Linked DNA regions of Homo sapiens. The protein of the gene in region 2 purifies or fractionates together with the protein of the main gene of each other region. This does not show direct contact. Each region holds a gene or a part of one and is shown on either strand. Other genes may lie near its edges.

Region 1 (7,032 bases), on a different chromosome or scaffold from region 2:
GGTTGGAAGTTGGTGCCTGGATCACTGAAGGTAGAAAGGACAAGACCTAAGAACCCTAGACATTTGTCGCCATTGCCTCCTTGCTCCCACCCTCAGGTGCTGGGCTTCAACACCCGTCAGCGGAAGGCTTTCCTCAATGCTGTGATGCGCTGGGGGATGCCACCACAGGATGCCTTCACCACACAGTGGCTGGTGCGGGACCTGAGGGGCAAGACTGAGAAGGAGTTTAAGTGAGTGTGGGTGATACAGGGCTGAGTTGGACGCAAGGGGAAGAGCTTTGGGTGTTCCTTTCTTCCTTGGGGCCGCCATATGATGTGACCTTACTCAACTGATTATCACCCTCCCTGTCATACAATACTTCCTGGCTCGATTTCCTGGGGGGTGGTCTCAGCCCACTCCACCTCCCCTCAGCCGAGCCTAGAGTAGAGGGGCCAGGCATCCTCCCCAGGGGAGGGGCGTTGAAGCAAGGAGCCTCTCCTGGGCTGTCCTAGCCTCACATTTACTTGACCACAATAACCTGGCAGGAGGAGCTGGTGGAAAGGATGAAGAGCTGACTGATGGGGCCCAGGAATTAAGTACCAAGGCCAAAGGGAAAGACCCAGGGGTGGGGCGCAGGGGGACAGTTAGGACTTGGAGGGCTGGTAATGGTGAGAGTGAGAGGCCCAGGGGAGGAGCCCTGGAGCACCTGGGGATTTGGGGGTTTGGGGGTCCTCAGTCATCCTCGCGCCTCCCTCACTGCCCTATACCCCTTCTGTGGCTCCCCTAACCCTCCTCCCACTCCCATGCTCCTTAGGGCCTATGTGTCTTTGTTCATGCGCCATCTGTGTGAGCCTGGGGCAGACGGCTCTGAAACCTTTGCCGATGGGGTCCCTCGGGAGGGACTGAGTCGCCAGCAGGTGTTGACCCGCATTGGAGTCATGTCTCTCGTCAAAAAGAAGGTATCAGTCTTCCTGTCACCCAAAGAATCAAGCTGGCTGCCTAGTCTCTGTCCTTCCTCTGCCTCTGTCCCTGAGTTGTAAGCTTGCGCTGGTGTGAGACGGAGGAGACTGGAGCTTCCTGTCTGTAAGCGCCTGGAGCTGACACCTAACCCTCCCACCCTGCCACCCCAGGTGCAGGAGTTTGAGCACATCAATGGGCGTTGGTCAATGCCGGAACTGATGCCTGACCCCAGCGCCGATTCTAAGCGCTCCTCCAGAGCCTCCTCTCCTACCAAAACGTCTCCCACCACTCCTGAGGCTTCTGCTACCAACAGTCCCTGCACCTCTAAACCTGGTAATCAGAAGTCAGGATGGTGGGAGAGACAGAAAGGGAGCCAGGAGTCAGGGCGGGAGAATCTCTGTCTTTATCACTGTGCCTTCCCCTGCAGCTACTCCAGCTCCAAGTGAGAAAGGAGAAGGCATAAGGACACCTCTTGAGAAGGAGGAAGCTGAAAACCAGGAGGAAAAGCCAGAGAAGAACAGCAGAATTGGGGAGAAGATGGAGACAGAGGTGTGTGGCTCCCTGGATTCCCCTGTGGAGCGGGAGGGGAGGGGGCTTGGAGGCCAGGTACCTGGGAGCCCTCTGGCTCATCCTGACCCCATTGTCCTCTTCCAGGCTGATGCCCCCAGCCCAGCCCCATCACTTGGGGAGCGGCTGGAGCCAAGGAAGATTCCTCTAGAGGATGAGGTGCCAGGGGTGCCTGGAGAGATGGAGCCTGAACCTGGGTACCGTGGGGACAGAGAGAAGTCAGGTGGGTGCATGGCCTTAGGAGTGATGGGGGATTAGAATTTGGGATTTCCCTCTTCTGGGGTCAGGGGATGAGGGTAACATCCTCCCTTCCTATCCCCTACCCCCTCCCACAGCCACAGAGTCGACGCCAGGAGAAAGGGGGGAGGAGAAGCCGTTGGATGGACAGGAACACAGGGAGAGGCCGGAGGGGGAAACAGGGGATTTGGGCAAGAGAGGTAATGGGTGGAAGGGACCGGACACCTGGGTCCCAGAGGGCATCAGGGGAGGTGGAGTCTGGGGAACCGAATGCTTGGGTCCTGGGCGGGTAGCTGTTTGAAAGGCCAGTACAGTACAGTACAGATAGTAGTCTTGGGACCTGGGAGGAGGGTGTCCTGAGGTGTGAGCTTTGACCTGTCTGTCCTAGCAGAAGATGTAAAAGGTGACCGGGAGCTTCGACCAGGGCCTCGAGATGAGCCACGGTCCAATGGGCGACGAGAGGAAAAGACAGAGAAGCCCCGGTTCATGTTCAATATCGCCGATGGTGGCTTCACAGGTTGGGGAGACTCTCGCTGCTTTCTGCTCCTCAAGGGGATCTGCTCATCCTCATGGGGTTTCTCGTTTTGCCTGAGGCTTCCTGCTACCTTTAATTCCAAGTAACTTCCAATGAAGTATGTTGCATGCTGACTCCGATCCTTGCTCTAAATCTTTCTTAAGTATCCCTCTTAACTCCAAAGCTGGCCCTAATCCCACCTTTATTCTTAATTCTAACGAACCTGGTTAGAACTGAGTTTGTTCCAAACCTAACCTTTACCCATTCCTCTTCAGGAGCCCTTAGTTCCCTTTCATTATTCAGTTTCTCCATCTCTACCTGTCTGTTGGACTGAGTGCAGTCTGCAAAACCCTGTTACCTCTTCTGTCTGCTGCCTTCTTTGCAGAGCTTCACACACTGTGGCAGAATGAGGAACGGGCAGCTATTTCCTCGGGGAAACTCAATGAGATCTGGCACAGAAGACATGACTATTGGCTTCTGGCTGGGATTGTCCTGTATCCTTTGATACACATGCAAGAAGGAAAAGGTTCTCTCAAGCTGGCAAAAAAAAAAAAGATGATTTCACACCCAGGGACAGGGCTAGTGCCACACTTTGGGGAGTCAAGCCAAAAGGAAGAAGTGTTCAAAGCCAAGCCCATTCCTGTTAAATTCCTTGATGGTTCCTTTTCCTTCATTGGTAGCCATGGCTATGCACGGTGGCAGGACATCCAGAATGATGCTCAATTTGCCATTATCAACGAGCCATTTAAAACTGAAGCCAATAAGGGGAACTTTCTGGAGATGAAAAATAAGTTCCTGGCCCGGAGGTTCAAGGTGGGAATGAGGGAGGAAAGGAGCGGGTTATAGACGGGCTTGGGTCAGAAGTGAGACCAGATCTAGTTGGAACCTAGGGAAGGTTAACACCTTCAGGGCTGAGGTGATACCTGGGGCCAAGACCAAAGTGTAACCTTGTGCTTGGGAGTGTGATCTGGGTCAGGGTTGCTGCTAGGTTCGCAGTCGGTTTGGAGCTGGGAGTGCCCTGGGCCAGCAGTGAGGGCAGGGTGGGTCTCTTGCTATGTCCGCCCCCCCAGCCCCTCACCCACTGCTGGCAGAGCCCTACCTTCACCTCCCAACTCTGTGCCCTCAGCTCCTGGAGCAGGCGCTGGTGATTGAGGAGCAGCTGCGGCGGGCGGCCTACCTGAACCTGTCGCAGGAGCCGGCGCACCCCGCCATGGCCCTCCACGCCCGCTTCGCCGAGGCCGAGTGCCTGGCCGAGAGCCACCAGCACCTCTCCAAGGAGTCGCTGGCGGGGAACAAGCCGGCCAACGCCGTCCTGCACAAGGGTAAGGGCCGCGGCGGCCCCGCGCGGGGGAGGGCCCACAACGCTGCGTAAGTCTTCACCCCGCACCCCTCAAAATCTTCCCACCCCCTGACCCCTCTACCTGCTGAACCATCCCCCTCTGACCTCTAACCCCACTCCTACCGACCTGGCACCCCCTTGGATTTTAGCCTCTAGGACTTGTGCAAGCCAACCCTCATCCATGTCTGATAGCATTCACATCCGTGCCCAATAGAGGGACCTGCCCCAGCCTCTGTGTCCCCTCCACACAGTGGGGCCTCTTCACTGGCAGTGGAACTGCATGCCTGCCATACTGCTTAACATCATCCAGTTAGGGGCCTTGGACTGTGAATGCACCATACAGATCCCTGGCTGTGATCAAACAAATCACATTCCCTCACATGTGTTTCACCCCATAAGGCAGAAACTACCACCCATCCAACCCTCTGGCCTTACCCCATGAAACTTCCCTTTGACCTTCGACCTTTCCTCCTACCCCCTCTCACCTTGCCATTGATAGAGATTATATCCCAAAGCCCTCTAACCATCTAATCCTGCCTGGTGTAGTCACTGACTCCTGGCCCCTTTGATCCCTGTTCTAATTCCTTGAATCTGTAATACTGACCTTCTAACCTCCCTCTCCCCTTACATATTAAAACCGTGATTCCTTAAAGCTTTGACACTTACCACCTCCCATGCCTCCTGACTATTTCCTCCCCATCATCCCCAACCCCAAACCTTGCTCTTCCAGTATGAGATGTTCTGACAACTCCCCGCCCCCATGTCTTCCAATGTCCCCCCATCTTCCTTTCCTCCATGCTCCCTTTTTCTTTCTTCTTTCTCTCCATCTGTCTTCTGTGGTAATCTGGTCTCTCTGTCTCTTTTCCTGACACTTTTTCTTTTCCCCTGAGTTGCTTCTGTTTTCCATCTACTTCTTTTACTTTCTTGATCTCTGGTTCTTTGACATCTGTGTTCTCCTCTCTCGCTCTTTTTCTGCCTGTATCTGTCCATCTGATGCCTCTCTTTTCCTGGCTCCATCTCTGTATTTCCCTGTCTTTCTCTTGCCCTTCTTTCTCTGTGGCCCGGGCCCCAGTTCTGAACCAGCTGGAGGAGTTGCTGAGCGACATGAAGGCGGACGTGACCCGCCTGCCAGCCACGCTGTCCCGAATACCCCCCATCGCAGCCCGCCTTCAGATGTCCGAGCGCAGCATCCTCAGCCGGCTGGCCAGCAAGGGCACGGAGCCTCACCCCACACCGGTAACCCTCTTTCCCCCTAGCTCCAGTTTTCCCTGTTTGTGTTCCTCCTGCACACATACAAACACTTCCATCAGAATCCTATACAATATGGAAAAACAACTTGCTAGAACACAGTCATCACCCTTGAGTGAGTCTCCCTGCCTGTGTATCCTACCCTTAGCAGTTGTGGAGTGTGGCTCATAATGTCTCTCCTACAGCTTCTTTCCTCTCACAGACTATGAACTAACTCCAACTTCTGCTTCCTCTCTGTTCCAGGCCTACCCGCCGGGTCCCTACGCTACACCTCCGGGGTACGGGGCGGCCTTCAGCGCCGCACCCGTAGGGGCCCTGGCCGCCGCAGGCGCCAATTACAGCCAGATGCCTGCAGGGTCCTTCATCACAGGTCAGCTGGTGTTTTCCTACCCCCTGCTACTCACACTCCTCCTTTGCCAAACTTTATTTCTGCTCAGCTGCCCTTTAACTGCTCTAGTCCATCTCATTTCCTTGGTGGTATCCGGTGTTTTATGGGATAGAGTTGTTCTAGGCTGTCCCCCCACCCATCCCTTTCTTAACCCCTCTTCAGTCCCCTTTATTAAAAACCAGAGTTTTAGTAGATCTGTGGCTTGGTGTCTTCTACCCGAGCCACCTCCCTCCGGGTTCCTTCAAGGGAAAGTGAATATGAAACCCGAGGGGTTAGAGAGTGGGAACATGTGTTCAATCATGTAGCACAAAGTGGAATCTCAGGGAAAGGGGTTTGCCCGGGTCTTCCCTCCCTCACGTGGGACAACGGGAAGTGGCAGGAGGTGACCTAGAAGTGAGAATTCACCATTGTCATGAAGTGACGTTTGAGAGTGATCTGGAGATTGATCTTTCCTTACCCCTTTCCCAAACAGCCGCCACCAACGGCCCTCCAGTGCTTGTGAAGAAGGAGAAGGAAATGGTGGGGGCATTGGTGTCAGACGGGCTGGATCGGAAGGAGCCCCGAGCCGGGGAGGTGATCTGTATAGACGACTGACTGGATCCCAGGCCTGCCCTTCACCCAGGCCCCGTCCCCGAGGCCGACCCCCAGCTCAAGCGCTGGGGCCTGCTGCCAGCCCTCCACCTTCCCCACCCCTTGGGCCATCACTGGGCTAGGAACCCCTTTGCCCCTCTCTGCAGCTCCTCTCTTCAAGAAGGGCCCTTTGTCTTTCTCCACTCCCACACACCTTTCCCACCAAGCCTTGAAGACTGTGCTGGTGAGAAGAAGTCTGGGTGGGAGATGGCTGGCAGGGTCTTCCAAGTACCTTCCTCCCACACTGCCAAGTATACACAACTTCCCAGTAAATGGTTGTGGGGAGGAAAGAGGTGGAGCCTCCCCAGCCGTTTCCCTGCAGAATCAGCTCTGTCTCATGTGGAAGTGGAGAATCAGCCTTGCCTGGCCTTTAGGAACTTTTGTGGGGAAGAGAGCTTTGAAGAGAGGAGGGGGACTTTAGAGAGGGATGAAAATGAGCCCTGGGAGGGAGGAAGGGACGAGGAGGGGTGGCTGCATGTTACCGTCCCCTACCTCTCCCCACGTGGAGGGTGGAGCAGTTATGAGGGAGGAAGTCAACTGCTGTTCAGCCTCAGAATAAAGGTGCCGTTCACTGGCTCAGTTACCTCCTGTGTACCGGCATCTTGTGTTGGGAATGTTCCCCCCTCCCTAGGGACCAAGGACCACCCCTACAAAAAGAGTAATGGTTGGGTGATACTCCCTCAAGCCAAAGAGGAGCTCCCCAACCTGTTCTAGGGACCCAGGTAACCTAGAAGGGTGGGAGAGAATACAATGGGCCAGATGTGGTGGAAGCCCAGCTCTGGGGCTCAGGTTCCTGGAAGACTTCTACTACCCTCCCTCCTCAAGGCCTGGATACAGACTAAATTTGTATAAGTCAGGCAGGGGACCTAGTCAGGGTCTTGGGAGCTACCTTGTCGTTGGGACCAGAGCAAAATAGTGGAGGGCAGGCTAGGGAAATGTGGGCACATCCCCCCTCCCAGGAGGGGCCGGGGAGAGTGGCAGTTTGCATGGCGAACCCCCCACTTCCTCTTTGCTGCCCCTTCACTTTCTTGCTGCCCCTTTCCCAGTCTCTCTTCACACCCACTCCTGGTCTGTCCTGATCCCCTCTTCTGTATCAGGTTTATTGGTTGTACATATAAATTATACTTTCCTTTCTGTGTGCTCTGTTATTTTTTATGGGGGGGGGGAGTT
Region 2 (3,847 bases):
TTGGCACAGCAGCTGAGACAGAGTCCACACAAACAGCCAGCCAAACAGCAAACCCCATGTTGGGGCACAGCAGCCTTCCTCAGTGCACCACCTGAATACCCCAGCACCCATCCCCACAACCCAGCACTGGCCACAGCAGGGCACAAGTCACACTGCAGGGTAGTTCACGGGAAAAAGGCTGCCTATTACACCTCATACCTCCAGGCCTGGGGGCACAGGGTCAAAGGCCTCCTACTGGGGTGACCTCGCCTCGTGAAACTTCCATGTCCCCAGGATGTGGCTTATGAGACAGCAGAAGAAGATGCAGACCCTGGGGAAAGGCCTCTGAGAGTCTCAGTGCAGCTGGGGCACAGCAGACCAACTGGCCTGGCCTATTACCTCCCCGGGGCCCTCGGAGCTCAAGGTTCTGAAACAAGGACCACCTGAGGCTGGGCCTAGGGGTGCGTGCACAGTCTTACACCTGAGCCATCATCCTAGTAAAGAACAGCATAAAACCAGGCAAAATTTCCAGGAATTTATTGGAAACACAATACAAATTGGTTAGTAGATGGCATCTCCTTACAGACAGACAATCCACACTGTGGTATCATGCTCAGAACGAATTATCCTGCGGAAACACTCATGAGCACAGGTGCGTGCTCTGGGTTAGCTTCCCTGGCAGGGAAAATCAGAGACATAGTGCAGAGGAACAGGAGGGGTGGACAGAAAACTGGGACATGGCCTTCCTGGGGGGAATGGTGAGGAGGGGCTGCTAACTGAGTAAATTCCCCCAAAGGAAAACAGGGACAACAGTAAAGAATAAAGGCTTCCCCCTCCCTCCCCAAAGCCGTTTCCTCTCTAGGCAGAGTAAAACAGAATCTCCAAACACCCACGGGGCAGCTCCTCCACCTCCCCTCGCCAGGGACTTAGGACAGCAGTGGGGCATAAACACCAGGCTCAGACATGACACCGAGTGCACTGAGGCCACGCACAGCCCCACCTGCTTGCCCTCAGCCCCCTGCTCTGCTCTGAGTGGCAGGGGACTGACCCGGTGGGTCGCCTGTCCCAGGCTCCCAGGGCAGCTGCTTCCAACTGGGTTTCACTACTGTGAGGCACCTGCAGGACTCTGGAGGCCAAGAGGAGGGGAGAGGCTGGGGCCCCCTCTCTCTGCCTGGGGAAATGTTTCTGACAAGAATCATGGCTTCTCGAGGCTCCAGCCCCCACCAGACAGGTCCACAGTGTGGCAGGTCCCCCAGTGGCCTTGGCCCCAGGCTCTGGTGACGCGTCCTCCCCTGGTGCCCAGCCAGTCTCAGGATGGGGGCGGCTTGCTGTTGTTGTTCCCCACCTCTGGGTTGCCCCTCACTCCCCTGTTTTGCCTCTCAGCTTTTCTTGTTTTGTGTTAAACAAATCTCTGGATGAAAACCCCCACTTGAAATCCATTTTCCTGGGTGGGCCCTGAGAGATGGAAACTGGGCTGTGCACAAGGGGAATTGTGAAGGGCAGGCTGAAACCTTCCGGCGACACCCTCCAGTCGGCCCTCCTCTCTTGCGCACCTTTAAGAAGTGAAGGGTGGGCAGGCGATGACTGAGCCAGAGGGGGAGATAGCCTGCAGAGCCTGTGTCCTCACCCCAGGGGCATGTCTGCTGGGGGCTGCGCAGACAGTCTCTGCACGTCCACCCATGTGCTCACTGAACCACAGTGACATGCCACTGACACACAGCAGGGACACCATGGCCCCAGAAAGGGAGCGGGTGGCTGGGAAACCCTCTCAGCACCAAATGCTTCCAACGGCAAAGGCACAGACTAGAGGCGCCTCGGCACCCTTCCTCCATTGCCTGGGGGATTCTGTCAGAACGAGGGGGCAGTTTCCAGAGACAAAGGGAGAGCGTGAAGTCTCAGTCAACATCACCCTCCTAGGATGACTGGACTACAGAACCACGAGCTTTACTTACAAGAGGAAGGAAAAGCCTGCTTGGCACACGTGGCTCGAACAAGCTGCGCTTTTCCCAAAGCCAAATGTCAACTGGGTAGATAGGAGGGGCCTCCCTTCTCCTGCTTCAGACCTGGCCTGACTCCTGTCTCCAAATCTCTTGGGCCTGGGTGAGAGGGCCTCTCCCAAAAGGCAGAGAAAATGAAGCTGGCAGCTGAGTCACGGGCAGCTAATTGTTTCCAGAATCTGCAGTCACCACTTAGTAGGGGTTCAGAGAGAAAGTGAAAGGGTGAGGGAATCATTTCCCCTTCTGGGTCCAAGTACGACAATAAATCCAGAGCAGGGTACAGACAGACAGCTTTCCTGTGTCTTTTTCTTTAGGGAAGAAACATCCACGTGATGCGGCACCTCCTCCCAGGTCTTTGCTGAAGGGACCCCTCAGTGGGAACCCTGAGGAGAACCCCTGCCTGCCACCTCCACCCCTCTCACCAAATGCTTCTGACACAGGCCCCACCCTCAGCGCCCCAAGCCAAGACCCAGCACAGCTCCAAGAGTGGGTGGTGGTGGAGACATCCCATGCTCGCCCTTGCAGAAGCCTAAGATGAGAACCAACTCCTCCTCAGAAAAGAAGCTGAGATGTCTGCAAAACCGCCCTCCACCTCACACAGCACGCTCTCTCTGCCAAGCGGAGCTCAGCCTCCGAGGACACAGACATCTACAGCATCATTATCCTTACCAAGTTACCTCGTGCTTCCCAGGGTGTCAATTCAATTGTAGCCACTCTGTCTTGCAACAGCTTGGCTATTTGGGCCTCTCGTATCTGCCATCCAGCTGCCTCCTAGTAACCCCAGAGATGGCTGGGAGATCAGACTCCAGTTGTCTTTCTTGGGACTGTGACCCTGTGCCTGCAAACAGAGGGCAGGGGAGTTGCCAGCCTCACATCTGCTCAGGGAGCTCATCGGGCGCTGAGCTATTCCTATCCTTGCAGCTGCCAGCACAAGTAGCACAGCTACTCAGCACAGCTGAGTGGCCAACTGTGATGCCACCAAGGGCTCGTGCCGAGGGCAGGTGGGAAACACGAAGAGCCCAAGCCAAAGGAGCAGGCAGGTCCCCCGGGGCCTAGGTCACATGTGCTCACAAGATGTTGGGCTGGAGGGGTGGGGGTCATGGGGTTGGCCACACAGACTCATACCCACAAACACAGTTCTCTCACTCCACACCTCTAGGCCAAACAGAGTCTGTCTGCTTAAAATGAAACTAGGTCATTTGTGACCTGCTGTAGGACCCACCTGGCAGCAGTTCTTCATCAGCTGGTTTGGCTGCAAGGGAACAGGGCAGTAAGCAAACGGCTTGTCACAGTGATACACACGCTTGGCACTTTTAACAACTGCTCTTGCTGGAGCTGTCTGTGACCAAGCAGAGCCGGGCAGAACACCAGTTTCTCTCCAACCACAAAACACAGATGATGAGTTTACAGGCTTATCTTTTGTCAGAACCTCGGTAATTCTGTTCCTTGGAGGAGTAGGAGGGAGGGTCACATATAGGAATGCAGAGGGTAAACAGCAAATTCCCCCATTTCAAAAAAACAAGGATGAAGCCTATCGAGAAAAAGCTGAGTGACGGTAACAGCAAGGACAGGGAAATACCTTGAACCTCATAAACACTGGCGCATTTCTTAAGAAAAATCCATTCAGAAAGATGCCATGGCCCTCCTGTACATATTTAGTAACTATACAGCATAAGACCGAGCTGAGCGGACACATGCAGGGTGGCAGCGGCTCTGAGCTTGCAGCAGCCCCACTGCCAAGTGGCCGCTGTTGCTGGGTGGGGCGCAGGGCGCTGCAGAAGGGAGGAGGTGGAGGGGTTCCCTCAGCCCCTCAATTCTCAGCAGGTCTCGCTCCGTAACAGCGAGGTCTCTGACAAGAAAGCGAGGTGCTG
Region 3 (7,931 bases), on a different chromosome or scaffold from region 2:
CAACTGGGTGATGCCAGTCCCTACCAAATTTGAATTGATGACTCAACTAAAGAATTAAAATTAGCAAGACAAGAAAATTCCAAATGAGGTGAGAAAGCTGTAGAAATAGTTCCAGATCCCCTAGTACTGAGCCATTCAATATCATTTCTGATGACAGGGACAGAGCTAGGAACATTCAATGTGGGTGTGAGTCCTTTTCATATACGGGGAGCTGGGTAAGTATTTTTTAAGGAAAATAATACATGAATCAGGAACAGTGAATTTTATTTAACCCCTTGCAGGCTGCAGATACAAAGGCAGCCGGCAATGATGCCTCAGTTTTCCTACAGCTTACCTATGCCTTATACAGTTAAGCAATGGTCAGAAATGTACTACTGTATCAAGGCCAGGTATTACTTGCAGAAAAAAATAAGGTGCCAATGATGTCATGTTTTAACAAAAGCAATGTTGTTAAATTCAGTACACCAAAAGAATCAACCAAACAACTGTTGAAAGGCAAGTTTTGTGGTCCTGACTCTGCTATCAGGTGACAACGTGAAAAACTCCTCTAAATCCAGCAAAGCTTTAATTGAGTGCTTATGGCTCCCAGAAATTTGCTGTAATTTTCAGAAATGACATAAAATAATTCTAGAAGATACAGCAGGAAGCCCAAAAGGCCTCTTTTGTCTTTTTATGCCTCTGGATTTGATAGCTGCTAAAGATTCTAGAACTGTAAGGAAAGAGATAAGGACCACCTTGGGAGCCTTATTAATATGTACATAAATATGATTTGCTTGGTGCCTCCACTGTGGTTTCCTCACAAGTTAGAATAAGTCCATCCACTGATCAGATCGGAACATCGTATTCATGTTCATCTTCTCAGTCAATAACACTTATAGATCCGGAGGAATAGAAATGAACAGACAGGGGTTGCTTCTGAGTCTGCCCTATACCTGTGAATATGAAACGATTTGCCCTCTCTTTGCATGGTTTTCTTCTTCTTCTTCTTCTTCTTCTTTGTTTTAAAGCACCAAAAATGAAGCCCAAAGTAATTTGGTAAGATGTGCTGTTGAATTGCTACAAAGTTGACTGCGTTTCAGAGGGTGGATCTGTGTTAAAAAGAAAACAACAAAAACAAATGAAATGTCAGTTTTCTTTCTGCAGAAACATTAGGACTTCCCATTTCTACTGACACGTCTTATCTTGATTCTTTCCAAATTTTTGTAAAGACATAAGAGATAAAATATAACAGCTCAGAAGGCAAAGATAACATTGTAGGATCTCGAATAGAGTCCAACCTCAGCTGAGTTAAGTATTGAGAATCGTTCAAAGAATTTTAAACAAAAAGCCTGGCTTGGGGGTCACGTGTCTGTTTAATCTGCCCCCACTGCATGGTGTGTTACACGCAGCACACACAGGGAATTAAAGCCCCACATAAGGTTAATAAAAATGCACTCTGATTTGATGAAATGATTTCTGATTTCTGAACTATTCCTCTATAAAGAAATTTAAAGTGACTGAGAATATGGAGGATTATCTGCTGGAATGCACTGTGAAGCTAGAAAAAGAATAGCAGGGAAATATTTGTGAGTTCAAAAAGCTTTTTGACATCTGCTCTGTGTGTGTGTGTGTGTGTGTGTGTGTGTGTGTGTAAAGATAGTGCAGAAAAGGTGGCATTTATTTCCATGTGATTCCAGCATGCACAAAGCCCCAGCTTTGGGCCCAGCACACAGTAGGTCTGCAGCAGGTGCTAGAGAAATGAACCTGGTTTTAAGATATTAGTTCAGGACCACATTTGGACCCACACTTTTTCCTTTTACATTTTCATATGTGAGCCACCTGCACCCTCTTTTTTGGGGGTGGGGAGGGGGCAGGAGTGACTTGTATTTTAAACAAAGGTTTGGTGAAGAAGAGGTGGGGTGGGGTGCGGTGGGGCGGTGCAGTGACCTTCTCAGGAGAGTCCTGAAGCCCCCTCTCGCCTGCCTGGGGTGCTGAGGCAGGGGTGGGTACATGGCTGTGGGCCGAGGTCGACCACCCCCCTCCCGCCCCGCCTGCTGTCTGGGCATCTAGAGAGTGGGGAAACATTAGTACGGGGCCAGCTGCGGAAGCCTGGCAGGGTCGAGGGAGAGGTCAAGGTCGGCCGAGAGGCGGCTATTGATCCGGCTTGGAACGTGAGACATGGAGCGCAGCAAGACTAAAGGGGGAGCTGTGAGACCAGACATTAACAGCTTTGCGCGCTGATGAGGCCCGTGCCAGACGGGCAGAGGGAAAAAGAGGAGACTGGAGTGGCAGCTGGGATCGCTCCCTGCCTGCGCCCGGCCGCCTCTCGGGAGAAGAGGAGGAGGAGGAGGAGGGGAAGGAGGGGGAGAAGGAGGAGGAGGGGGAGGAAGATGCGGAGGAAAAGGGGGAGGAGGAGGGCGAAGGGGCCGGCTCAAGGCTGGGCAGGGGCAGAGCAGCCTCTCCCCGGCTGCCGCGAGGTGGAGCGCGCCGGCGGGCGGCGGCGTGTCCGGCCCTGCGTCCGCCCGCCCGCGCGTCCCTCTTCCCGCCGTCGGGGCAGCGCGGGGCCAATGAGGAAGTGCTCCTCGGGTCCGTGGGGCACGCGCCGGCCCACGCCAGCTACTTCCTGCTGGGAGTGGGGAGGGGGTGCCCCCTCCCCAGGCACGGCCCCTTACCGCACGCGGGGTGGCGGCTGCAGCTGGGACTCCGAGAGCCCTTGCGCCGCTCGCGGAGGGGCTCCCTTTTCCTGAGGGGTCCTCCCCGTCCCGCCTTGCCACTGGCGGGGTCTGCCTTCCTTGTAATCAACCCCAGGAAGGTGAGGGTCGTGGGTCGGGATTTCGAGTCCCGGACCGCCGGCGGCGCTGGGCTGCAGGCACGCCGCGGTGTTTTGGGTCCAGACCTGTCCCTGACGCGCTGTGTGTCCTAGGGCAAAGTGCTCACCCTCTCTGGGCTTCACATCGCTAGTTCTCAGAAAGAGAGCGCGAGTTGATCTTTCAAATTTAGAGTCCGGGCGAGTAGGGATGGCCAGTTTATGAATGTCTTAAAGAAGTTTATTAAAGGTGCGTGTGGGCATATTTTTTTTAAGCCACTTTCCTGGAAAGATTTTCCCGGTGAGAGGGATGGCAGAAGAGGGAGGCCCTACTAGACTTTGGACCACGTGGAGGTGGGGTGTTGGGGGTGGGCAGCCGGGTGCAGCCTGCCCGGCCAGGGCGAGGAGGTGCAAGTCCGCGCCCCGCCCCCGGTCTCCATCCGCTCGGCCTCGCGTCCGCCCACCGTGGAGCCCACAGTTTACAGAACTGCAAGCCAGGGCACATTTTATTGTTATTATTTTTTAGGGTATGGGACTGGAAGGGATCTCTTTCTGTTCTCGCTCACGGACTCTGGGCGCTGTTAAATTGTTGGTGCCATCGCCCCACCCAAGACCTTCGGGACGAAAACAAAAACCCCCGTGTGCCCCCCGAGGAAAAGGCCCCGAGGGAGGCGGCGCTGAGGCGTCACGGCCTCGCCATGCGCCCGGGTGAAGCCGCCGGAGCCAGGCCTGGGGGCGGAGTGGGGTGGGTGCAGCTGGACTCGCCCGCGAAGCCTAGCCGGAGCCAGGCCCCGACCCGCCCTGGCCGCCTCCAGAGAAACCCTGAGAAGGGAGAGGAGGCCAGCCGCGTGGCGCGCCCAGCCCTGGAGGCCAGGTCATCAAATTGACAAAGTTGGCCACAGCCTGGGGAATGGGGGGTGTCCACGGGGGCCGTGGTCTGGCCTTGTCCCCGGGCCACGGAGAGGCCCCACAACTCCTCTTGTCCTCGCCGGTTGGAGATCAAACGGCTGACAAGGCAGCTGCGTCCTTCCCAGTCTGACAGGCATTTCCAAGTCCTACCCTGGGCCGAGGAGCGCGGGGGGCGGGGTGTGACTTCCAGGTTGCTGTGATTGTCAGGGGCGCCTCCTGGAGTCACCCACCCGAGTATCTGCGGAGATTTGGCCACACCTACTCCTGGGCTGGCAAGTCCAAGTCCCTCTCCCACGTGGAGCGCCCCGGTCCCTTTACCCTCTCGCTTGCCATAGACCCAGTTTAGGAGGTGGGGTCGTGTTTGACCCCAGGAGTTAATCGGGGTAAGGTGAGGGGAGGGGACAAAGATTTGAGTGAAAATCCTTTTCCAAGTGGGACTCAAACAAGGTCTCAAACACTTCTCACCCCCTCACGTGCTCTTGATTCTGTTGTCTTAGTGTCGTTTATTTTGTCATCCTCACCCTCCCAGAGTCTGTAATACCAGGATTTATATGGAGACACTTTTTGGAAGTTGAACTCCAACATCTACTCCCCTCCCCTCGCCGCCCGCGACCATAAAACAAAAGTAAAAACTACCAAGCGACTTTTCCAGGGAAACGAAGCGATTCTTACTGTCCCCCCAACTCCCATGTCGACCCCAACCCTTTTCCACAGTCCACGCCCCCACCCCCAAAGTCCAAGTCCGAAAGAGCTTTTGGGTGGGTGGAGACTTGCATTGATTCAATTTAGTTCACTCACACAGCACCCCGCCCCCCTTCTCAGGGGGTCCTGCTCCCAGGATGGAGGAGATATAAGGACGATTTTTCTTTTATTTTAAAATAAGCTGCCCAGTGGCCCCCCCCAACCCCCTCCCGCTGTTGCGCAGCCGGGGCTCGGGGGAGATGAGCGCACAAAAACGCGGTTTGCACGTGTGTCCGGCTTGGGCTGCGGGTGTGCGCAACTGGCGACTGTGTGTGTGTGTGTGTGAGTGTGCGCGCGCGCGCGAGTGTGTCTCTGTGTGTGCTTTCTTGTTCTCTTACAGGGTACAATGTTAAAAAGCCACCGCTAGTCGCCCCCAGTGCTCCGACTCTCTGGGTCTTTTTGTCTCTAGTGCAGATTAAACGTCACGTCCGCACTTGAACTTGAATTTTATCCCATTGTACAGAGGCAGCCCCAGCCATAGAGAGACCGAGAGCTCCCAGAGAACCCGGACTCCGCCATCTTCACGTTGCAATCTATAGCTCCCAGTCTGCGCCCGCACCGACCCAGGCGCACTGGGCGAGCCGCCCCTCCGCCCCGCTCCCCCCGGGCCCGCGGCGCCAGGGGAGCGCTGGGGAGCGCTCGCGGGGACTCGGCAGCCCCTCCGGCCGGCGCCAGCCTGCCAGGTGAACTGGGAAGGAGCCTCTCCTGGTGTCCCCCCAGAGCCTCGGAAGGGTCAGTCTCCGAGAAAAAACAAAAACAAAAACAAAAACAGGCAGCCCGCAGAAAACCCAGAAACAACCGAACCGGGGCAGTTTTACATTGCTTTGGGTTTTTTGAGGGGGCGGGGTGAGGGGGTACGAGACAAGTCCCCAAGTTTTCTTTGCTTTTTTTTTTCCTTTGCTTTTTCTTCTTTTATTTTTTTATTTGTTTGCATTTTTTTTCCCCTCCTGGTAGAAGTGCGCTTTCCACCTACCAGACCCTGAAAGAAAGTGTCAGGAGCCGGTGCAAAACCCAGTTTAAGTTCAAGAAGACATTTGCAAGTGCAAGAGGCCAAGCAGTTTGAAGAAGTGTAAGAGATTTTTTTTCCTTCGAAAGAATATATTTTTAAAGAAACCAGCCAGTCCGCGGAAAGCAACAGCAGTTTTTTTTTTTTTTGCCTCTTTTTCTTATTTTAGATCGAGAGGTTTTTCTTGCTTTTCTTCCCTTTTTTTTCTTTTTGCAAACAAAACAAAAAACAGCATAGAAGAAAGAGCAAAATAAAGAAGAAGAAGAGGAGGAAGAGAGGGAAAGAGAGGAAGGGAAAAAAAACACCAACCCGGGCAGAGGAGGAGGTGCGGCGGCGGCGGCGGCGGCGGCAGCGGCGGCAGCGGCGCGGCGGCGGCTCGGACCCCCTCCCCCGGCTCCCCCCATCAGTGCAGCTCTCCGGGCGATGCCAGAATAGATGCCGGGGCAATGTCCCGCCGCAAACAGGGCAACCCGCAGCACTTGTCCCAGAGGGAGCTCATCACCCGTAAGTGTCTGCGGAGTGCGCGCGAGGGGCCGGAGATGGGGCTCCGGGCGTCTGGGGCTGGGGACACCGAGCCCGGAACAGCCGAGCCTGGCCAGGCGCCGGGGCCGCCCGCTGGCTGGCAGAGTCTACGGCGTCGGCCTGGAGCATGGCGGGGGGCGGGGGCCATAGGAAAGTTTCTTTGCAGCCCGGGGAGTTGGGGCGCCGAGCAGCCGGACGCGCCTCGGGCTCGGGGGCCTGCGGAGCCGGCTCCGGGCCGGGGAGGGGGCATGCAGGCTGGAGGAGTGTGTGTGTGTGCGCGCCGAGCCCGGCTGGACGCTCGCCCCTCCGAGCGGCGTGTGTGGCGGCGGCGGCGCTGGTGGCGGGGTTTGGAGAGGAGGGGGAGGGGGCTGGGGGAGCGGAGGGGGAGGGGGAGCCGGGAAGTGGGGAAAAGTTGGCGAGCGCGTGGGTCCGCGCTGACGGCGCGGGCGGAGGAGAGCGGGGTGCGTTCCGGCTGGGGGAGCCGTAGGGCCAGGGGCGGCCGCCGGCTCCGGGTCCCCGGTCCCTGCGCCCGGCCCAGCAGGGTGCCGGCCGCGCCAGTCCTAGGATTCCGCAGCCGCCTTTCTCTCCCCTCCTCCTGCTATTTGCAAAATAATCCAGCTGCGCGGCTGTTTGCCGGGCTCAAGCCCCCCTCCCCACCCCCCACTTCCCCACCTCCGTCTGTCTCCTGGGATGATCTTGTCTTCTTTCCCCCACTTCAAAAAAGGTGGGGGGATTGGGGTTGGTGAAAAATCCCCGCCACGAGGAAAAAAAAAAAGGTTGTCAGTTAGGAGTGGGAAGAGAGTGATGCGCTTGTAAAATAGTAAAAGAAAAAAAAGAAAAAAAGGAGACCCATCAATCTCGTATCCATCTTTCTATCTCAGTATCTTTCATCTTTCCTATCTAAATAAACAAGGCAGGTCGCAGTGGAAATCCACCGGCTGAAATCGTGTCGATTTCAAGCATGTGGCTGGGCGGGCAAAGTCAGGCAGCGGGGCAAGACAAGCAGCAGCTTCCACCGTCCCTGTTGGGTTTATTTAGCAGAGGGGAAAAGCGAGCGCGAGCGGGCCAGGTACGGTGTTTGCAGGGGAACCCGCCCCGAGTCCCCGCACACTTGCACCGGGAAGGTGGCTTTGCGGCGCTCCCCGCCCGCCGCAGCCCGCGGGGCGGCTTCTTCGCTGCGCGCGAACATTTCCCCGCCGTTCTTTCTCTCGCGGTGCCTGGGTCGCCGTTCCTTTTTTTTTTTTTTTTTTTTTTTTTTTTTTTTTTTAACTGCAATAGAAATAAAACATCCTCTGGGTGCCATCGAGACCGCGGGCAGGTTATATGCTTGCAATCCGCCGCGCACCTCGCCGGGCTGGGGCCGGGCTGCCCGCGCGGAGCTCGAGAGGGCTGCGCGCCCAGTCACCGCAGAGGACTGGCTGCCGGGCGGCCGAGAGCCGAATATTTATGTTATATTTTAAAAAATTTAAATAAATAAATAAATATATAAAGTGGTTCTCCCCTCCCCTGAAAACCCAGCATAGGAGCCATCTGCTCGGAGCAATTGCTGTTGCCATCTCTCCTTTGTTACAGCAGATACATTAGTAAGAATTTGTGGATTTATTATGATTTTTTTTGGGGGGGGGGGAATAGAAATTAAAGTGGGATTCGCCTTGGGAGAGGGATGCCTCTTTGGAGGAAGGGAAGAGGACTTCTCTTTTATTTTTCGCCGTTGTAACACCAAAGAAGACTCGCCGGCTGCGTTTAAAACAAAATGTTTTGCAGCTAGATTTGAGCTTGGTTTGATCAAGGTCTTTTTTGCCAGTTGACATTTCGATCCTTTACCAAGCCACAGCAATCGCTTATTCTACACCCTTCCCCCTTTAGATGGGGTGGTTGTTAAAACGTCTATACTTGCAGAGGCTTAATTTCTCCAGGAGGCAATTTGCCCCACGTAGCCTCTGTATAATTGCAAGGGTTGTTTTTGAG
Region 4 (6,111 bases), on a different chromosome or scaffold from region 2:
TCTAGCACCTCATAGCTCTATCTATGGTACTGAGGTGGCCCAAGTGGCTTCTGTGGTAGCCCACTGCACTCTCCATGGTACTGAAGGGATGACCATTTGTTTTAACATCTCTCTGGGGTCCAAAAGAGTCCTGTGACTTAGAATCACAAACTTTTTTCGAGCAGGAAGGGACTAACACTATAAATTAGTCCAATCCCCTTATTTTACTGATGAGTAAACTGGGAGGTTAAGTGATTTAGTAAAGGTTGTAGGGTTATCAATGTTCAGACTAGGCCTACAATAGCCTTGTACCCTTCAGTCCTATTCTAATTCACCTTTTGTGACACTATTCAGTAAGCCTGGCTAGGCTCTTAGTCCCAGGAAAGGATCCAGAGGATGAGAGTGGGTGCCCTAATTTGAAGCTACAGAAATACACATATTAAGTGGTAGTGGAGGTCGTCTAGTGACCCTTGGACAAGGACACTTTGTTAATTAATCATCTGCTAATAATAATCCTATAGCCCAGATTCCACATGTAACAGGTACCTGCCCCTTCATGGAGTTTTACCACATCCACTAAATGTCAAAAATTAAAGAAGCCTTGGACCTCCAGAGCCTTTTCTCTCTGCTGACAGGCAGGTTGACTCCTGGCACAGTTCTTTTCTATTAAAGATCCTTAGGCAAAGTAATGCTTGCATCTTTTTCTTTCTCAGTAACCCATTTCAGTTTTGTGATGCCTATTGTAAGGAAGTTCTTTATATCTCAAATATCCTTTCTTAGACAAAAAAAAAAAAAAAAAAAGGTTAGACCCACATTCATTTAGCCTTGACCAGATACTATTCTATATGAGGCAGAAAGGTAGACTAGATGACTTCTGGTCATCCTCCCAGGTCTGTTTCCATGAATCTTGATTCTGGGGTTTCTTCTAAGTCCTCATGCTAAACTCCTCTGCAGCTTAGGATCAGCACCCGCCCCCCCCCCCAACCCCTATCCTCTTCCTCTCAATGATCTTCTCCTTCCCCAGCACTGGAGCTCTGCAAGTCCCAGGCCTAGGGAATTTTAGCCTGGAGAATTTTAACCCTTTCCTGCTCAGAGCATGTGCTGAGTCCCTATCTGTGCAGATGGCCCAGCCCCGCCCCCCGTCCCTCACTCCAGCCTCTTGAGCTCAGAGCCAGTGTAATCCTCCTCTTGTGTGAGGGAGCCTCTCCCCTGCAGAGAGGAGGAAAGCCTGCCTCGGAACAGCCCTGGACAAAGGGGCTCAGATGCCCCATCATACTGCAGGCTCCAAGGTTTGAAACAAGGGGATGAATCCTATACGGTATTTGCAGTTTTTAGCCCCTTCCCCAGGCTAGCTGTGCCCCTTAACTTCCACTCCTCCCCCAACTCTCTCTTCATTCCCTCTCCCTCTGGCTCCCTCCCCCTTCATGCCCCTCCCCCTCTGTCTGTCTTCAGACTCTGCTGCTGGGAGGTGTTTCTCTCCCATGCATGAATGAGTCTCTGTAATGAATGGAAATGAATGGATCAGGAATCCAGGCGGAGGGAGGGAGAATGAGGGGGGAAAGACAGAAAGACAGGGTAAGGGCAGAAGGAAGCACTGTGGAACCTGGAAGGATGTTTGGCTGGCTGCTCAGTTAGGGATCTCAGAGCAACTGGTCCCACTTGGATAAATGGGGAGCATGGCAAGCCCACCTCATTTGCTCACCACACTGCATAGCCCAACCTACATGGGAGAGGGGCATATTGTGATGGTCTTCCCCACCGCCAGGGGGTGGGGTGGTAGCTGTGGTTGTTCTGGACCATGCATTTAAAATATAGAATTTGGGGAAGAAATCTGGATTATCTGGGAGGCTTGTAGGCTTGGCAAGTCAAGAGGTACAGTTTTTGAGTATAGCAGCCCCTTCGTGCCTCAAGAAGCAAGTAGGGAGAATGGATTGGTTTTGGGAATACAGAATGCTGAGAGTCTGGGGGTAGGGAGTGACTTTACTGCTGAAAACTAGGGCTCATCTTTTCCTCCAAATCTGTCTCTTGCTTTAGCTCCACAGCACCTGTTGCCTTCATTAGCAGCTTTTCCTCCTCTTCCCTGCACTTCCCAGAACCAAAGAATGTGAAGGGGGTCCATGGAGGTGAGTGAAGCTCTGGCTTCAACCTACAAGTACCTACAACTGTATACTCCCTCTCCTGCCTACCTCTCTCTCTCTTTGACCTCCCATTATTAGAAGTTAACTCCTTGGCCCTGACATCTCGATTCCCATACACCTCCCCCCACCCCATCTTCCCGAGGTGAGTAGCACCCTGTGTTCCTAGTTCAGGCCCCAGCCCACCTTCCCTCGTGTTGTCCTTCTGGCCCTCGAGGCGACGCCCTTGCTTCCTTTACAGCTCTACCTTCACCCTTTGCTCTACGCAGATCTTTCTCCACAGGGCTCACGTCCCCGCGCCCCGAGCGGCCACTTAGCGCCGTCGCCGCCGGCTTTCGACGGCGAGCTGGATCTGCAGCGATACTCCAACGGGCCAGCCGTGAGCGCAGGGTCGCTCGGGATGGGAGCGGTGAGCTGGTCTGAGAGTCGTGCAGGCGAACGGCGCTTCCCCTGCCCTGTATGCGGGAAGCGCTTCCGCTTCAACTCTATCCTTGCTTTGCACCTGCGGGCGCACCCAGGAGCCCAGGCCTTCCAGTGCCCTCACTGCGGCCACCGCGCGGCGCAGCGGGCTCTGCTGCGCTCGCACCTGCGCACACACCAGCCCGAGCGCCCACGTAGTCCTGCTGCACGCCTGTTGCTGGAGTTGGAAGAGCGCGCGCTACTACGCGAGGCCCGACTGGGGAGAGCCCGAAGCTCAGGGGGCATGCAGGCCACCCCTGCCACTGAGGGTCTGGCGCGGCCCCAGGCTCCTTCATCGTCCGCCTTCCGTTGCCCCTACTGCAAAGGCAAGTTTCGCACCTCGGCGGAGCGCGAACGCCACCTGCACATCCTGCATAGGCCCTGGAAGTGCGGCCTGTGCAGTTTCGGCTCCAGCCAGGAGGAGGAGCTGCTGCACCACAGCCTGACGGCCCACGGGGCTCCCGAGCGTCCCCTGGCGGCCACCTCCGCTGCGCCTCCGCCTCAGCCTCAGCCTCAGCCTCCACCCCAGCCCGAACCCAGATCAGTCCCCCAGCCGGAGCCGGAGCCGGAGCCCGAACGTGAGGCAACCCCGACCCCAGCTCCTGCCGCTCCCGAGGAGCCCCCAGCGCCTCCGGAGTTCCGCTGCCAAGTGTGCGGCCAGAGCTTTACACAGTCTTGGTTTCTCAAGGGCCACATGCGTAAGCACAAGGCCTCCTTCGATCATGCGTGTCCGGTGTGCGGCCGCTGCTTCAAGGAGCCCTGGTTCCTTAAGAACCACATGAAGGTGCACGCCAGCAAGCTGGGCCCACTGCGTGCCCCGGGGCCTGCCTCCGGGCCTGCCCGCGCCCCCCAGCCTCCTGACCTCGGCCTGCTGGCCTATGAGCCGTTGGGCCCAGCGCTCCTCTTGGCCCCGGCTCCCACCCCGGCCGAGCGCCGTGAGCCCCCGAGCCTCTTGGGCTACCTGAGCCTGCGAGCTGGCGAGGGCCGGCCCAACGGCGAGGGTGCTGAGCCCGGTCCCGGCCGCAGCTTCGGAGGCTTCCGCCCGCTGTCCTCTGCTCTCCCGGCCCGGGCTCGCCGGCACCGTGCGGAGGAGCCTGAGGAAGAAGAGGAGGTGGTGGAGGCCGAGGAGGAAACCTGGGCCCGGGGCAGGTCGCTGGGCTCTCTGGCTTCCCTGCACCCGCGCCCGGGTGAGGGACCGGGGCACTCTGCCTCTGCTGCTGGGGCCCAGGCAAGATCGACCGCCACGCAGGGTATGTAGGTACCCTCCGCTCTCCGGGTACGCCGCGTCCTCCTCTGACTCTTACGCCGCCACTCCCTCGTAGCTTCCTTGTTAAAAGAACTTACGTTTAATTTCTCCTGAGTTTTTTTGTTTTGTTTTGTTTTGTTTTCCTGGAGGCTTTGCCATCATTTGAGAACACTTAACTCTTTAGTCACAACAAATCTAACCCCTCAGACTTTGTTTCCTCCTGGACCCCGAGGGGAAGCAGCCCTATGGGATGGGTGTGGGGTGGGTGCGCGGCACCTGGACAGGGTGTGGGCCCCCCTGACTTCCTCTTAACGTATGTGTTGCAGAAGAGAATGGGCTGTTGGTTGGAGGGACCCGGCCTGAAGGGGGCCGGGGCGCCACCGGCAAGGATTGTCCTTTCTGCGGAAAATCTTTCCGCTCAGCACATCACCTCAAAGTGCATCTGCGAGTGCACACAGGTGAGGGAGGCAGCCTCCGGCGTGGAGAGGGGACTGGGGGCGGGCAGAAAGGTGAGGGCTACCGAAACACTAGGAGGTGAAGTTTGTTCCGAAGCCTTCAGTTTGGCTGGATGAGATCACTTGGGAAACGCTCCTTTATTAAATCAAAGTGGGTGGGAGACGCAGTGCCCTTTCTTGGTTCTGAGAATGAGGTCTGTAAATTGGGCGAAATTCGGGTGGGTGCGTGCAGTCATCGTGACCCCGTGACCCTATCGCACCCACTCTCCCCAGGCGAGCGGCCCTACAAGTGTCCGCACTGCGACTACGCGGGCACCCAGTCCGGCTCGCTCAAGTATCACCTACAGCGCCACCACCGGGAGCAGAGGAGCGGGGCCGGCCCCGGGCCACCCCCGGAGCCACCGCCTCCTTCCCAGCGGGGTTCGGCCCCGCAATCTGGAGCCAAGCCGTCTCCGCAGCCTGCGACCTGGGTGGAGGGCGCCTCAAGTCCCCGGCCTCCTTCTAGCGGTGCTGGGCCGGGGTCCCGTCGGAAGCCCGCCAGCCCTGGGAGGACCCTGCGCAACGGGCGAGGCGGTGAGGCCGAACCCCTGGACCTGTCCTTGCGGGCAGGGCCGGGAGGCGAGGCCGGGCCTGGGGGTGCCCTCCACCGCTGCCTCTTCTGCCCGTTCGCCACTGGAGCCCCAGAGCTCATGGCCTTGCACCTTCAAGTGCACCACAGCCGCCGGGCTAGGGGCCGCCGGCCACCCCAGGCTGACGCGTCCCCGCCCTATGCCCGAGTACCATCAGGAGAGACCCCTCCCAGTCCTTCGCAGGAAGGGGAGGAGGGCTCCGGGCTGTCCAGACCCGGAGAGGCAGGGCTGGGGGGGCAAGAACGGTAGTGGGCCCTCAGGGGCGATTAGCTTAGTGAGCTTACCCCGCCGGAGCGGGGGAGCGCTAGAGGTAGTTGGGTAGAGAAGCCAGCAGGGGGCAGCGTGGGACCCATATCCCAGCCCCAGGCGGACCAGAGGTGGAAGGCGCGGCGGGCGTAGGAGGGTGGGCTGGCGGTACCCACCCAGCCCAAGGGAGTCACAGTGCCTTAGAAGTGGCAGAGGTGAGGGTCAAAGAACGGGGTCCCTGGGCTGGCAGAGAAGGTTTGTGTCCCTGTTGAGGAGCCACTCTGCCAGTCTTTGCTGGTCCATAGGCGTGAGAGTTTATTTTTGTACAAGGGGTGAGGGTGGGGGGCACTGTACCCTTCTAGCCCCATCAGGGGCCCTGTAGACGTCGCTATTTTTGGTACGATTCCTGTCATCCCTATTGCAGAGTCGTGTCCCCAATAAACAGGTGTCTTGAGGCACAGGGCCCTGTGTCTGTCTGCCTACCTATGTCCTGCTTCCCTCTTTGGGTCCTTCTGTCAGGAAATAGTCACCTCTTCAGACACTTAGTTATCACCCAAAGAGTTTGATAAGAAATGCAGAATATTGGGTTTTACCCCCAGGTTTCGATGCAGTAGCTCTGATGGGGCCCAAGAATTAGCATTTAACAAACAGCCAAGCAAGTTCTCACGCACTGTGGCCTGAGGACCTCATTTTGAGAACTGCTGGACTGTGCTGGATCCCAGTTTGTCTGTGACCAGTTCAGCCTCAAGGAGTAGGTGCAGTGTGGGAGAAGGAGCTTCAGAGAGTGTGTGGAACCTCTGGGAGCCACTGTGGAGGAGACACATTCTCCCAGGCTCATACACAGTCAGCTAGCTCTGGGCCTGGGAGGGGTAGAGGGGACCTTCCAGTCTTGGTTTTATTTTCTGTGTTCTAGTTAAGGGCTGGTTGAGGGAAAGTGCTCAAGTTATTTATCACCTTAATCC

What was found.
Region 1: the proteins of MTA3 (region 2) and CHD3 purify together in Homo sapiens (affinity purification with mass spectrometry; 4 studies listed by BioGRID and IntAct, with this or other methods). This does not show direct contact.
Region 3: the proteins of MTA3 (region 2) and BCL11B purify together in Homo sapiens (affinity purification with mass spectrometry; 2 studies listed by BioGRID and IntAct, with this or other methods). This does not show direct contact.
Region 4: the proteins of MTA3 (region 2) and ZNF219 purify together in Homo sapiens (affinity purification with mass spectrometry; 4 studies listed by BioGRID and IntAct, with this or other methods). This does not show direct contact.

What each region holds. Positions count from the first base shown.
Region 1 is NC_000017.11:7,905,760-7,912,791, forward strand, and holds the end of CHD3 (chromodomain-helicase-DNA-binding protein 3), read left to right. Parts: intron 1-96; coding exon 97-230; intron 231-363; exon of another isoform or gene 364-501; intron 502-793; coding exon 794-938; intron 939-1,109; coding exon 1,110-1,272; intron 1,273-1,366; coding exon 1,367-1,488; intron 1,489-1,593; coding exon 1,594-1,729; intron 1,730-1,841; coding exon 1,842-1,943; intron 1,944-2,131; coding exon of another isoform or gene 2,132-2,134; coding exon 2,135-2,260; intron 2,261-2,642; coding exon 2,643-2,751; intron 2,752-2,937; coding exon 2,938-3,070; intron 3,071-3,383; coding exon 3,384-3,579; coding exon of another isoform or gene 3,580-3,625; intron 3,626-4,668; coding exon 4,669-4,832; intron 4,833-5,087; coding exon 5,088-5,214; intron 5,215-5,704; coding exon 5,705-5,826; coding exon of another isoform or gene 5,827-5,945; 3' UTR 5,946-6,996; downstream 6,997-7,032.
Region 2 is NC_000002.12:42,753,600-42,757,446, reverse strand, and holds the end of MTA3 (metastasis-associated protein MTA3), read right to left. Parts: 3' UTR 501-3,847; downstream 1-500. UniProt on the Homo sapiens protein: Acts as a component of the histone deacetylase NuRD complex which participates in the remodeling of chromatin.
Region 3 is NC_000014.9:99,269,175-99,277,105, reverse strand, and holds the start of BCL11B (B-cell lymphoma/leukemia 11B), read left to right. Parts: upstream 1-4,908; 5' UTR 4,909-5,887; coding exon 5,888-5,945; intron 5,946-7,931. UniProt on the Homo sapiens protein: Key regulator of both differentiation and survival of T-lymphocytes during thymocyte development in mammals.
Region 4 is NC_000014.9:21,089,577-21,095,687, reverse strand, and holds the end of ZNF219 (zinc finger protein 219), read left to right. Parts: intron 1-2,013; 5' UTR 2,014-2,096; coding exon 2,097-2,102; intron 2,103-2,397; coding exon 2,398-3,823; intron 3,824-4,145; coding exon 4,146-4,277; intron 4,278-4,547; coding exon 4,548-5,152; 3' UTR 5,153-5,611; downstream 5,612-6,111. UniProt on the Homo sapiens protein: Transcriptional regulator. Recognizes and binds 2 copies of the core DNA sequence motif 5'-GGGGG-3'. Binds to the HMGN1 promoter and may repress HMGN1 expression. Regulates SNCA expression in primary cortical neurons.